Linked DNA regions of Homo sapiens: region 1 is reported to be linked to region 2. Evidence: microRNA targets listed by miRTarBase, many of them from high-throughput screens and not tested one by one. Region 2 holds a microRNA gene; the other region holds the end of a gene's coding sequence.
What was found. The annotated mature microRNA hsa-miR-548h-3p reads CAAAAACCGCAAUUACUUUUGCA and lies in region 2 at 1,871-1,893, opposite strand. An mRNA with a match to its seed (bases 2 to 7 or 8) in the 3' UTR can be bound and repressed. Matches are read on the target gene's strand: a 7mer-m8 pairs with bases 2 to 8, a 7mer-A1 pairs with bases 2 to 7 and ends in A, and an 8mer does both.

Region 1 (5,379 bases), not on the chromosome of region 2:
CGTCGGCCACCACCGTGGGTTTTCGGTGAGCGTCAGCTGTCTCCTCCACAGGAAAAGTGATGATAGAAGAGGAGATGAAAGAGGAGATGAAGGAAGACGTGGACCCCCACAATGGGGCTGACGATGGTGAGTGTGGAGCTCACCCTGCCCTGATGCCCTTTGGGGCTCAGCACCCCAAGACTGCCTTCAGGCAGGGCACAGTCAGGTGGGCGTAGAGCCTGCGGTGCAGAGGCCCCAGGCAGGTCATCTAGGCACAGGATGGATCCTGCAGTGCCCCCTCCCCAGGAGCTGAGTGCCTGCTCCATGTTGTAGGCCAGGGTCTGAGCGGCGGTCCCTGCAGTGCCCGCCGCAGGCAGGTCCTCAGGAGGACCAGGCCCCTCTGTGGGCCCAAATGCAAGGGGCTCCCAGCTCAGGAGGAAGCTTTGGGTTCAGAGGGTCACGTGTCAGTATGCAGATTTTTTTAACTGAACAGGAAGACAAAAATAAGATTCTGGATATTCTGTTTTCAGCCAAGTGATTTTTCGTTTCTCAGTTTTTTCATCTTCAGGGAGTTTGGGGAAAGCATCAGAAAAATCCAGCAAAGACAAAGAGAAGAACTCCTCAGACTTGGGGTGCAAAGAAGGCGCAGACAAGCGGAAGCGCAGCCGGGTCACCGACAAAGTCCTGACCGCAAACAGCAACCCTTCCAGTCCCAGTGCTGCCAAGCGGCGCCGCACGTAGACCCTCAGCCCTGGTGGCGGCAGAGAAGCGGGCGAGGCACTGTGGTCGCTGAGGGGGTTGGCTGGGTCTGAGTGCCACCCCCCAGGCCACAGTGATACCATCCCAGTGCCATGAGCCCACACTGCCCGCCCTCAGGCTCTCAGGTGAACGTGGCCGTCAGCGGGGAAACGTGTGTGTCAGTTGGACCATGTGGGACCCTGATGGACCTGAAAGACCAGGATCGGTCCAGCTCAGATATTGAGGGCTCTGAAGCCTAGTTCTGTCTTCTCTGGAGCAGCTGTGGCTTCCCCGTGGCTGCTTGGTGACATGGATTAGCGCTACGTGGGCTGCAGCATTTGGGATCCAGGCTACCTAGAGGGGCATCGGGCCAGGGAAAACCTCGGATTAGCAAGCAATAAAAACATGACCTCACTCTTCCTCAAAGGAGCCCCTGGTCTTCCCTGTGTGACTCAGTTCTTTCCATCTGTTTGTCCCGCTGCAAGCCTCTTTCTGCGCTGACTGTGACATTGGAACGTGGCCTTCCTGTCACCCCCTCCGTGCCACGCACTGAAGGCCACCCCCACCCACCTGGGAAACTAAGAACTGGATATTTTGCCTCATTCACTTGTACTGTAACAATGTATATAATTTGGTTGGTATTTCACTATTTAATTTTTAAGAAGCCTATTTTACTAGTGTTTTATATGAACAAAGTACTGCAGAAGTTAAACCTGTGTTGTATTTTTTCTGAGATGTTTTGCTTTAAGAGATACTTTTTGCTCAGTTTTTATATGCCAGATACAGAGAATTTGTAGCGGTTATTTTTGTATGATCTAGTAACTTGCAAACAGACCAAATGGATGAGAGGCGGGGACCGTGCAGCTGTCGGCTGATGAGGAGGCGGCCGCCCCAGTGCTGATGGAGATGCCACTTTCGTGTGACTGCGAACATTAAAGCACAAAAAAATCCAACCTGGAGTTGTGTGATTTTGATACCAAAGTAAGTTCACTTTTCCTCCAAAAGGAAGTTTTTATTTTTCCAAGATTTATAACTAAAGCATACACTTAGATGACTTATTAACATTCACTTGATACAACATATAAACAAAATAGTAACAGATTCTGAGTGGTTATTTTGTGGACTGTGACAAGCACTTCAAATACAAAATGTTAGGAGGGCAAAACGGTGCGGGCCCTCGTAGGTCAGGCAGGCACCAGTGGGCTCCTTCCTGCTGAAAGCTGCGGCTGTGAGATGAGACCGCTGGCTGGGTCACAGAGTGAAATCCAGCGTTCCGTGTGCGGACGAGGAGACAAGCTGTCCTGGCCAGCCATCGCACCCCAATGTCTTCAGCTTGACGTTGCTTCTCTGCCAGTGGAGCCTCCTCCACCACCTGGGAACATCCCTGGCCATCTGTCCCTGAAGTCCTCCTCACCATGACGCAGATCACAAGGCACCCACTAAAGGGGCAAAGCCAGGAATCCCGTGCCATGTGATCGCCCCGTGTGGCACCTGCCACTCGTCTGCACCAAACGCACTGCCAGTTCTGGGGAAGAACAGCCCAGGGAAGCTGCTGGTCTACGGCCTGCCTGAGCTGTATTCCAAGGGTAGAGCAGCTGCCTGGGGGGACCCTGTGGGTCCCTTTTCTATAGAGCCGGGACAAATCCACAGCCCTGCAGTAACAGCCTGCCACAAAGAGCAGGCATCTGGAGGGCCCCACACACATAGACCAAAGGACTGAGCCCGCCTGGCATTCCTCCACTCACAGCACAAATACTCAGCCCTGCAGCCAGGGAAGGGTGGGGTCTCCCTTTGCTGCCCAAGTGTGCCCCCTTGCCCGTCTGATCTCTCCTGTTAGGTCAGCCTCATTCAGGGCTTTGTGCCAGGTCCTGTCCTGGAGTCTCAGTCCGGGACAGCAGCCTGGCTCTTAGGCAGTCCAGAAGCAGCAGGGCAAAGGGGGGCAAATACTAACACGGGGTGTCACGGGATGGCCAGGAGGAGTCCTGCTCGCCACCCAGGCTCACTGTCCTAAACCTCCATCTGAAACCGCATCTCGGGTGACCTCAGATTGTGCTAGGAAAGCCTAGTTAATAAATCTGCCTCATCTCGATTACTGTAACATTTTGCTGCACTTCCAGGAGAAAGCTAGAGCCCACAGGTTAAGCCCACTGGGCAGGTGAGCAGCGTGCCCCCGCCCCGGGCCTCCCTTCTGGACCAGAGGCTGACTGGTTGAAGTCAGGAGCCACGCAGCCCTTATGGACTCACAGGGGCTTCTGGGCTTCCCTGTGGGGAGGCCCAGTTCATGCTCTGCTGGCAGGTGGGATGACCAGGTCAAATTCACAAGTGTCAGGGCAAGGGCGATGTGGCCTCAAGTCCTGGTAAGCGCTGTACTTACCCTCTCCTGGCCCCAGGGGTCCTGTCTGTAACCTGGGGGCTTTATGTAATGCACACTCCACCATGTCATGTAGAAGGTGCCGACTGAACCCCAATCTGAAAAGGAAAACAGCTGGCATGAGGCTGGCCCGTGCACGGACGCTCACGCGCCTGCTGCTGTAGAGGCGAGACGTGGTACACTGTGCACTCGGGACAAGATCTGAACGGGTCAGAAGCCGCCGCTGATGTTGAGCCTGGAAGCCTCAGCAGCGGCTCTACACCTGGAACACGCAGGGCCCAAGAGCACCTGCTGCCGCAGAGACATTTTCTCTATGGCTGGCAGCTGCGGGTGGGGACTCAGTGAAGGCTGAGAGTGGGAGTGATCTGAACTCCCCCGCCTGCCCACCCAGGGCGACCCAGGGGTGACTGGGAAAGGCAATTGGGCTCCACTGCTCCCCAAATAGCAGCGAATAAATACTGAGCGGCAGGGCACTGGCAGCGAGGCTCCCTGCTTGGCTGGTTGATTGAGGACAGGGCATGCTTGGGCCAAATCAGGAGGCTGCCACTGGTCTTGCCTGGAGAAGATATGAAGGCTGTAATCCAAGCTCCCAGCCACACAAAATTCTGCTGGGCTCCTTAGCTGTGAGCATTGCCTGCTCCAGGCACATCACCCACTGCGTGTGCAGAGACCATTGCCCTTCCTGGGTGCCTGGGAGCTGTGTGTGTGTGTGTGTGTGTGTGTGTGTGTGTGTGTGTGTGTGTGTGAGTATGTGACAGAGAAAGAGAGCCCCTTTCCCCAGCCTCAACAGCAAACCCTTCTGGAATGCCGTGCCACACGGGGCGTCACTGGACTGCAGAGGATGCTCTGAAGAAGCAATTCTGTTGCACAGTCCCCTGCAGCAGCTCCTGCACTTCTTGGATTAGCACGCCCCCGAGATGAGCTCTGCACACACACACACACACACACAACACAAAAGCAACTAAAGAAGCAATTTGGTGTGGTGATATTTGTAAAACAGAAGTTGGGCAATGTCTCTAATACTCTTTTTAGGGAAGTGGTTCTATAGTCCTGCCGACAGTAGGTAGCAGCGGGAATGCTGTCCCCGTAGAACAATGTTGTCAGCACCCAGTATGCTTGTCTTTCTGTTTTCTGGGGCAGTGGAGGGGGCAGCCTGACCACCCAAGTCTCAGATCACCCAAACCCTATACAACCACCCAGCACCCATCAATGTCCCCATCAGAGCCCCCCGACTCCACCTCACAGTCTATTCTGATGCTGCAACCAGATCCCACCTGTAAATCATCTAACAAGGAGGTCAGGCAGCTCACTCAGGCTCCCTGGGAAACCTGCCCTGGCCACTGCACTAAGTTGATTTACAGAAATGTCCAGCGCCCCAGAACTTCGGGGCATCACCACTGTCGTTTCAAGAAAGTGTGATGCATGTCCACAGGTTCCAGCCAGGTGAGACTGCACCTGCTAACAGTGGTCAACAGGTCAGCAAAGATTAGGGCCCAGCACCCAGAGGGTCCTTAACCTGTACTTGTGGCCAGGATTGGAAGACTTGCGTTCACGGCTGTCCCTGGCACACAGTACAAGGAATGTCACCAGTTCCCAGGCCCAGCAGGCCTGCAGGGCTAGGAGATGGCAGTGTCCCCTAGGGGCTGGGCTGGGGCCTTCTCCACCTTTCCACCACCATCATTACAGGGACAACTCTGCGAGGAGCTATCCTCATGGCCAAGTCCAAAATCCAGATTTAGTTTTACCTAAATGTTTTGAAATGAATTGGTATAGCAGTTACAGAAGAAATTTATCTGGAGTGGCCACTCCTGATTTTTATTTCAAGAGGTCACCAACCTTGCCATGTATCTGCCAGCAGATGTCAAAGGTGGATGAGCAAGGGACCCGCGGTGCTGGGAAATGGCAGGTGAAAGTGACTTTGTGTTGCCCCATATCTGCCAGTGCTTAGAGAGAGGGCCCTGAGGAGGCGCTGAACTGGCATCAGCTGTGTTGAACAGTCCCCAGGGTGACCCTCCCGGTGGCCCAGGCTTCGTGTGGTCCTCTCCCCTAAGTGCCTTCTTACAACTGAGAGATGGCGGCAAAGGTGAAGGAAGCCACGGCTTGCCCATGTCATCCTGGTTATATAAGACTCGGCACCCTAGAGAGAAAGACTCCCCTGGTGGCTTTGAAAAGAAAACGGCCGTGCTTTGCACTGCCTATGGAGGGACAGGGGTCCGCCAGCAGCTTCCAGGAGCTGAGTAAGGCCCCCAGCCCGCAGCAGAAGGACAGAGACCCCTACACACCCAGCTTAG
Region 2 (5,379 bases):
CCGAGATTGCGCCACTGCACTCCAGCCTAGATGACAGAGTAAGACCCTGTATCAAAAAAAAAGAAGAAAAAAAAAAGGAGTTCTGTTTTTGATATGTTAAGTTTGAGATGTCTATTGTGTCCAAGTGGAGATGTTCAGGGTGAAATTGTATGGATTGTGTTTTTCATAGCATAGGGATTCTAGAGGACTTAATAGTAAAAGAAGCAGTAGGAAGATCTCAGAGGAGAGGATGAGACTAGAAGGATTCAGTTGGTCAGTGCAACTTATGTCTCACGTTGTGTCTGAGGATGACAAGAGGTGATGCATTGTGGGTAAAGCTGACTATATGGTTATTAAAAGAAAAAAAAAAGTCCAAGAAGTCCTAGTAAATGGAAAAATTTAGGTCTCCCTGGATGAAGTCAGCCATAGCCTGGGTTGATTGTTCTGCTGAAGAGAGCTTAGTCAGGTGGAGAGTGTGGTAAAGGGATAGCCATTACCCCCAAGGCTTCAATACAAGTGGAAAATGCAACAGCTTTAATCCTAAGATTCTTCCTAGATTCACAATATGTGTGTGCCCTGGTCCCAACCCCTCCCTACTCCCCTCATTTGCCCCCAGGCTTCGTGAAAGTGATAGCAGAATCAGCCATGCTGATTCCTCAGCCCAGTGCACTGGATGGAAGTTAATGCCCAAAACTGATTTATCTTCCTTGAGGCTGGGAAAAGGGATGAGTTGGGAAAGCGAACAACTAGAGGTGTTTATGAAGGAGGAACATCTGGGATGCCCGTGGTGGTAACGTGGAGTGCTGCAAAGAGGACTATAGAGAAGGAAGGCAAAATGCTGTTTAGAATCCACAAACGTGGAATCAGTGCATCTCATTTGCTGGCTCTTACCATAAAATGAGCATCAGTATCCCTGCCCTGAGCTTGGGTAGCTTATCAGAGAAGATCGCTGACACTTTTGGAGCCCATCTGAATAGCTCCCTCTGAAGCCATCCAACTTGACCATGATCTGGACTTCCTACTAGACCAGTATTTTGCCTTTGCCTGATCTTTCAACTTCAGCTTCTGCATTTTCTTCTAATTAGCCCTTTCTTACCCCACCAGCACTGCCAAAATGGAGACTTCCTGTCCCAGTCTCAGACCTTGTGGAATTCACACCTCCCCTTTCCATCACCACCTCCCAACCCTGCCACAATATGGACTACCTGTTGTTACGTTGAGAAGATTAAGACTACACAGGCAGTTAGTTTAGGGAACACCTTCTACAGTTGGTGAAATCTATTTTTAAGATCATGAAATGTCATACTACTGCCATATATACTAATTTCCTCCTCCTCCTTTCTCTAAAACTGTCACTCAAGATAAAAGTCAGCTGGGCCGGGCAGGGTGGCTTACGCCTATAACCCCAGGATCTGGGGAGGCCAAGGCTGGCGGATCACCTGAGGTCAGGAGTTTGAGACCAGCCTGGCCAACATGGCAAAACCCCATCTCTACTAAAAATACAAAAATTAGTCAGGCATGGTGGTGCACACCTGTAGTCCCAGCTACTCGAGAGGCTGAGGCTGGAGAATCGCTTGAACCTGGGAGGTGGAGGTTGCAGTGAGCCAAGATCACGCCATTGCACTGTAGCCTGGGCGACAAGAGTGAAACTCCATCTCAAAAAAAAAAAAGGGCAACTGGTGAATGCTGGGAATATGAATATCAGGGCTTGTGCTTGTTATTTTGGGGAATGACAGAAGACAGACCCAGGCAGTGTTTTTTCCCTGCATTCATCCTTTTTTCCTTTTTCTTTATTTCCCATTTATTTTATTTAAGTGTGATTTAGTTTGTACAACATTTATAAGAGGAATGGAAAATAGACAAGAAGTGATGATAGCAAGTATTAGGTTGGTGCAAAAGTAATTGCGGTTTTTGTCATTAATGAAACGTAAAGTAATTAAAGTAATGACAAAAACCGCGATTACTTTTGCACCAACCTAATAGCTTTGGAAATGGAACAACGAAGGATCACAAGTTTGGCTTCAAGTTTTCTGTGGTACACTTGCCACAAAAAGCAGGGGGCAGAGGAAACTTTTGGAGGCGATGGATATGTTTATCATTTTGATTGTGATGATATCATGGGTGTATATGTATACCCAAGCTCATCAAATTGTACACATGAAATACATGTGGGGTTTTTCTGTCTATCAATTTATACTTTGATAAAGCTATTAAAAAGAAAAAGGCAGAAATGAGCTCAAATTTTAAACTGTCTTTATTCTTTCATTGAACAAGCATTTATGAAGGGCCCGCCATGTGCCAGCTCTGTGCGAGATATTGATGTGACTCTGGGAAGGCAAGCATTGTCCCCAACCCTGCACATCTATCAGGGAAAGCAGAAGCAATTGCCATCACGTGCTAGGACAGGGAAGTTTGGCACCATGGAAACGTGTAGCAGGGGCAATCCTGGTGTGGGGGTGGGTCAGGATTGTAATTCCCAAATTGGAGACTGACTCACACAGCTATCAGTGACAGGCAGAACAACCTCCACAGACTTCAGCCAGAGGGGGGAATTAGCCATTTTCTTTTATATCACCGTTTTATTCACACATCAGCATCCCCTCATTCCCATCCACTTATTCCTGAAAGCAGGCCCTTTTTGAGGCTCCAAACATAGTAATTAAACAAAGGGGATTCTAGAAGGTGGACAAAGCATTAGAGACAGCTTCATTGTATATAAATGCCAAATTTTCTGCATCAGTAAGGTTGCAGCTGTGACAAGAATTAGGCTGCTTTCTAGGTCATATATTTTCTAAAGCACTAGGCAAAAAAAATATTAACACATGAGGGGAAAAGAAATAAATAGACTCAATTGTTTTAAAACCTTATGAGTAGACCATTTTTTAATAATACAATGAATACTGCTTATTGAATAAACAAAGAAATTATTTGTTAATATAAAATAGAGCCACATTCTCTGGTTAAATCGTGAATGTGTAAAAAATTAAGTTCTCAATTTAATCTGTTCTGCACAAGATTCTGAATGAAAGATTAATTGGATATAATGACACTGATATTATTTTCTGTATAATAATAATTCTATACATGTTTGGCAATTTATAGTTGTAATTCTATGAATCTGAATTTTTAAAAGTTAACTACAAATAAACAGTCTCTGTAAATGAGATATATGGGGTAGGAGACTGCTTACATGGGTATGGCTAAAGCATAAATTTGAAATAATATCTGATTCATATCAGAATTTATCAGCCTGGGCTGGATAATGTTTAGTCACAGATGAGACACAGATAAGAAAATTAACACCAGATTGGTAATTAAAAGTGCTTCCTGGGTATGAATGACACCTCTGAATGCAGCATGAAATAATTCCTTTTGTATTCTGCTCCACGTTTTCTTTCATCTTGTGTTTGGACATTAGCCACAGAGGGATTGATGTTTACCGCAAAGAGCCTGGAGTCAGAAGATCTATATTCTGGTCTCAATGCTGCTAGAAGTTAACTGTTAGATTTTTAGAAAAAATAAGTTCTAATCCTCTGTTCAGCTTGCACATCTGCAAAATGAAGATACTTTTTAAAGCAAAATTGAGAAAGAAATAGAACAAAATTATGCATGCAAAAATGCGGTGAAAATTTTTAGTTAATGCAAATATAAAATATCCAAATAGTCTATGCACAAATATATTTATATATCATAACAATGGAAACTAAATTATAATTGAAGGGATATCAAAAATAGAATTATAGTATTGAAACAAATAAAAGCCAACAAGATTGAATATGTGTGTTTGTGCACGTATGTTTTAAGTGGTGAGATACTTCTAGATATTATGTTGTTAACATATTACCAAATTGTTTAACTCATATATGCGTATAGTTTTTGGTAATATGAAACTGTGCATAGAAGGAGATGATCAGTAATTTATTTGGCTGTCTAGTACATGTTGAGTCACTTCTCCATATAAAAAATTAATAAAGAAGGCTAATAAATGGGCTCCTCACGTGAGGGCTAAAGACAAAGACAGATGCAGACGCTTTGTTCCTGAAACCTCTAGCTTGGAATATGTTATAGTCCTGAGACAAAGCCATTCACAATTAATTCCAATGGTAAATCTCAGTTGAGCCTCGGGGGTGTGAAGGGGGACTGATACAGCATAGTCGGTTTGCCATAAATATGCCTAAATCTATAAAAGATTCATCACATTAAAAGAGGTTTTTTCTGAACACTATGCTCATTTATCAGATTATTTGGAGATTATTTAGTATGATAAAATACAGAAAATACCTCACTACATTTGTAAAATCTTTTCAGAAATCAATTTCTAAGTTTTTAACAAAAATGTCATGATAAGACTTCTAGTACTATAAGATGTCATAGACCTTCTGGTATAGGCACAGCAGTCTGAACAAACACCGAAATAAGAGGGGCACCTTAAAATCTCTAGTCAAACGGACTGGTAGAAACCTTCTATGCAATCTCAGTCTACTAAGAAGTAGGTTTCTACCTAATGTAAAAAAACCAATACTGAAAATCAAGGAAAAGAAAGAAATAGGAACAAAACAAACAAACAATAAGACAAACAAACAAAACAAACAGTAACAAGATAAATCTCCAAAAACATACTTGAATGAAGTGGAGTTTTGTGATTTACCTGACAGAAAATTCTAAATAATGGCCATAAGGTTACTCATAGATGTCAAGACAGCAATCCAAGAACAAGCTGAGAACTTCAACAAAGATACAGTATAAAAAAGTATCACATGGAAATCATAGATCTGAAGAATGCTATAACTGAATTAAAAAATTCAATAGCGGGGTTCAATAACAAACTAGAACAATCAGGGGGAAAAATTGTGAACCTGAAGACAGATCACTGGAAATCATTCAGTCTGAGAAGCAAAAACAAAAAAGAATAAAAAGAGGTAATTATAGATGAAGAGACCAATGGGACACCATTAAGCAGAACAAATTATGCATTATTGGTGTGCCACAGGGAAAAGAAACAGAGAAAGGGATATAAAACATAATCAAGGAAATGACGGCAGAACACTTCCGAAGTCTCAGGAAGACATTAGAAAGCCAGATCCCGGAAACCCATAAGACATAAAAGATGACAAATCCAAAGAGACACCATGATACATCATAGTTAAATTGTCAAAAATTAAAGATTAAATGAAAGAAATCAAGGAGCTAAATGGAAAAACATACCGAGTTTAAGACTCAACATAGTAAAGATGTCAGTTCTGGCCAAATTCTCTATATGCTTAATGCAATTTCTATCAAAATCCCAGCAAAGTTTTCGTTGCGAAAGACAAGCTTACTCTAGAATTTATATGAAAAGTTTGAGACCCTACGATAGCTAAAGTAATCTTGACAAACAAGAATAAAATATAGGAATTACTC

Region 1: miRTarBase lists MRGBP as a target of hsa-miR-548h-3p. Seed matches in the 3' UTR shown: 7mer-A1 at 1,483-1,489 and 7mer-A1 at 1,726-1,732.

What each region holds. Positions count from the first base shown.
Region 1 is chr20:62,798,924-62,804,302 of GRCh38, forward strand. It overlaps MRGBP (MRG domain binding protein), which reads left to right. Exons shown (of 5, transcript NM_018270.6): 4 at 52-126; 5 at 533-2,806. The coding sequence ends at 720. OGFR-AS1 (OGFR antisense RNA 1) reads right to left here. Exons shown (of 3, transcript NR_102430.1): 2 at 3,092-3,186; 3 at 1,704-2,156. Among named protein-coding and RNA genes, the nearest start is that of OGFR, 3.2 kb to the right of the region's middle.
Region 2 is chr8:27,047,001-27,052,379 of GRCh38, forward strand. It overlaps MIR548H4 (microRNA 548h-4), which reads right to left and starts at 1,963; the gene lies at 1,853-1,963.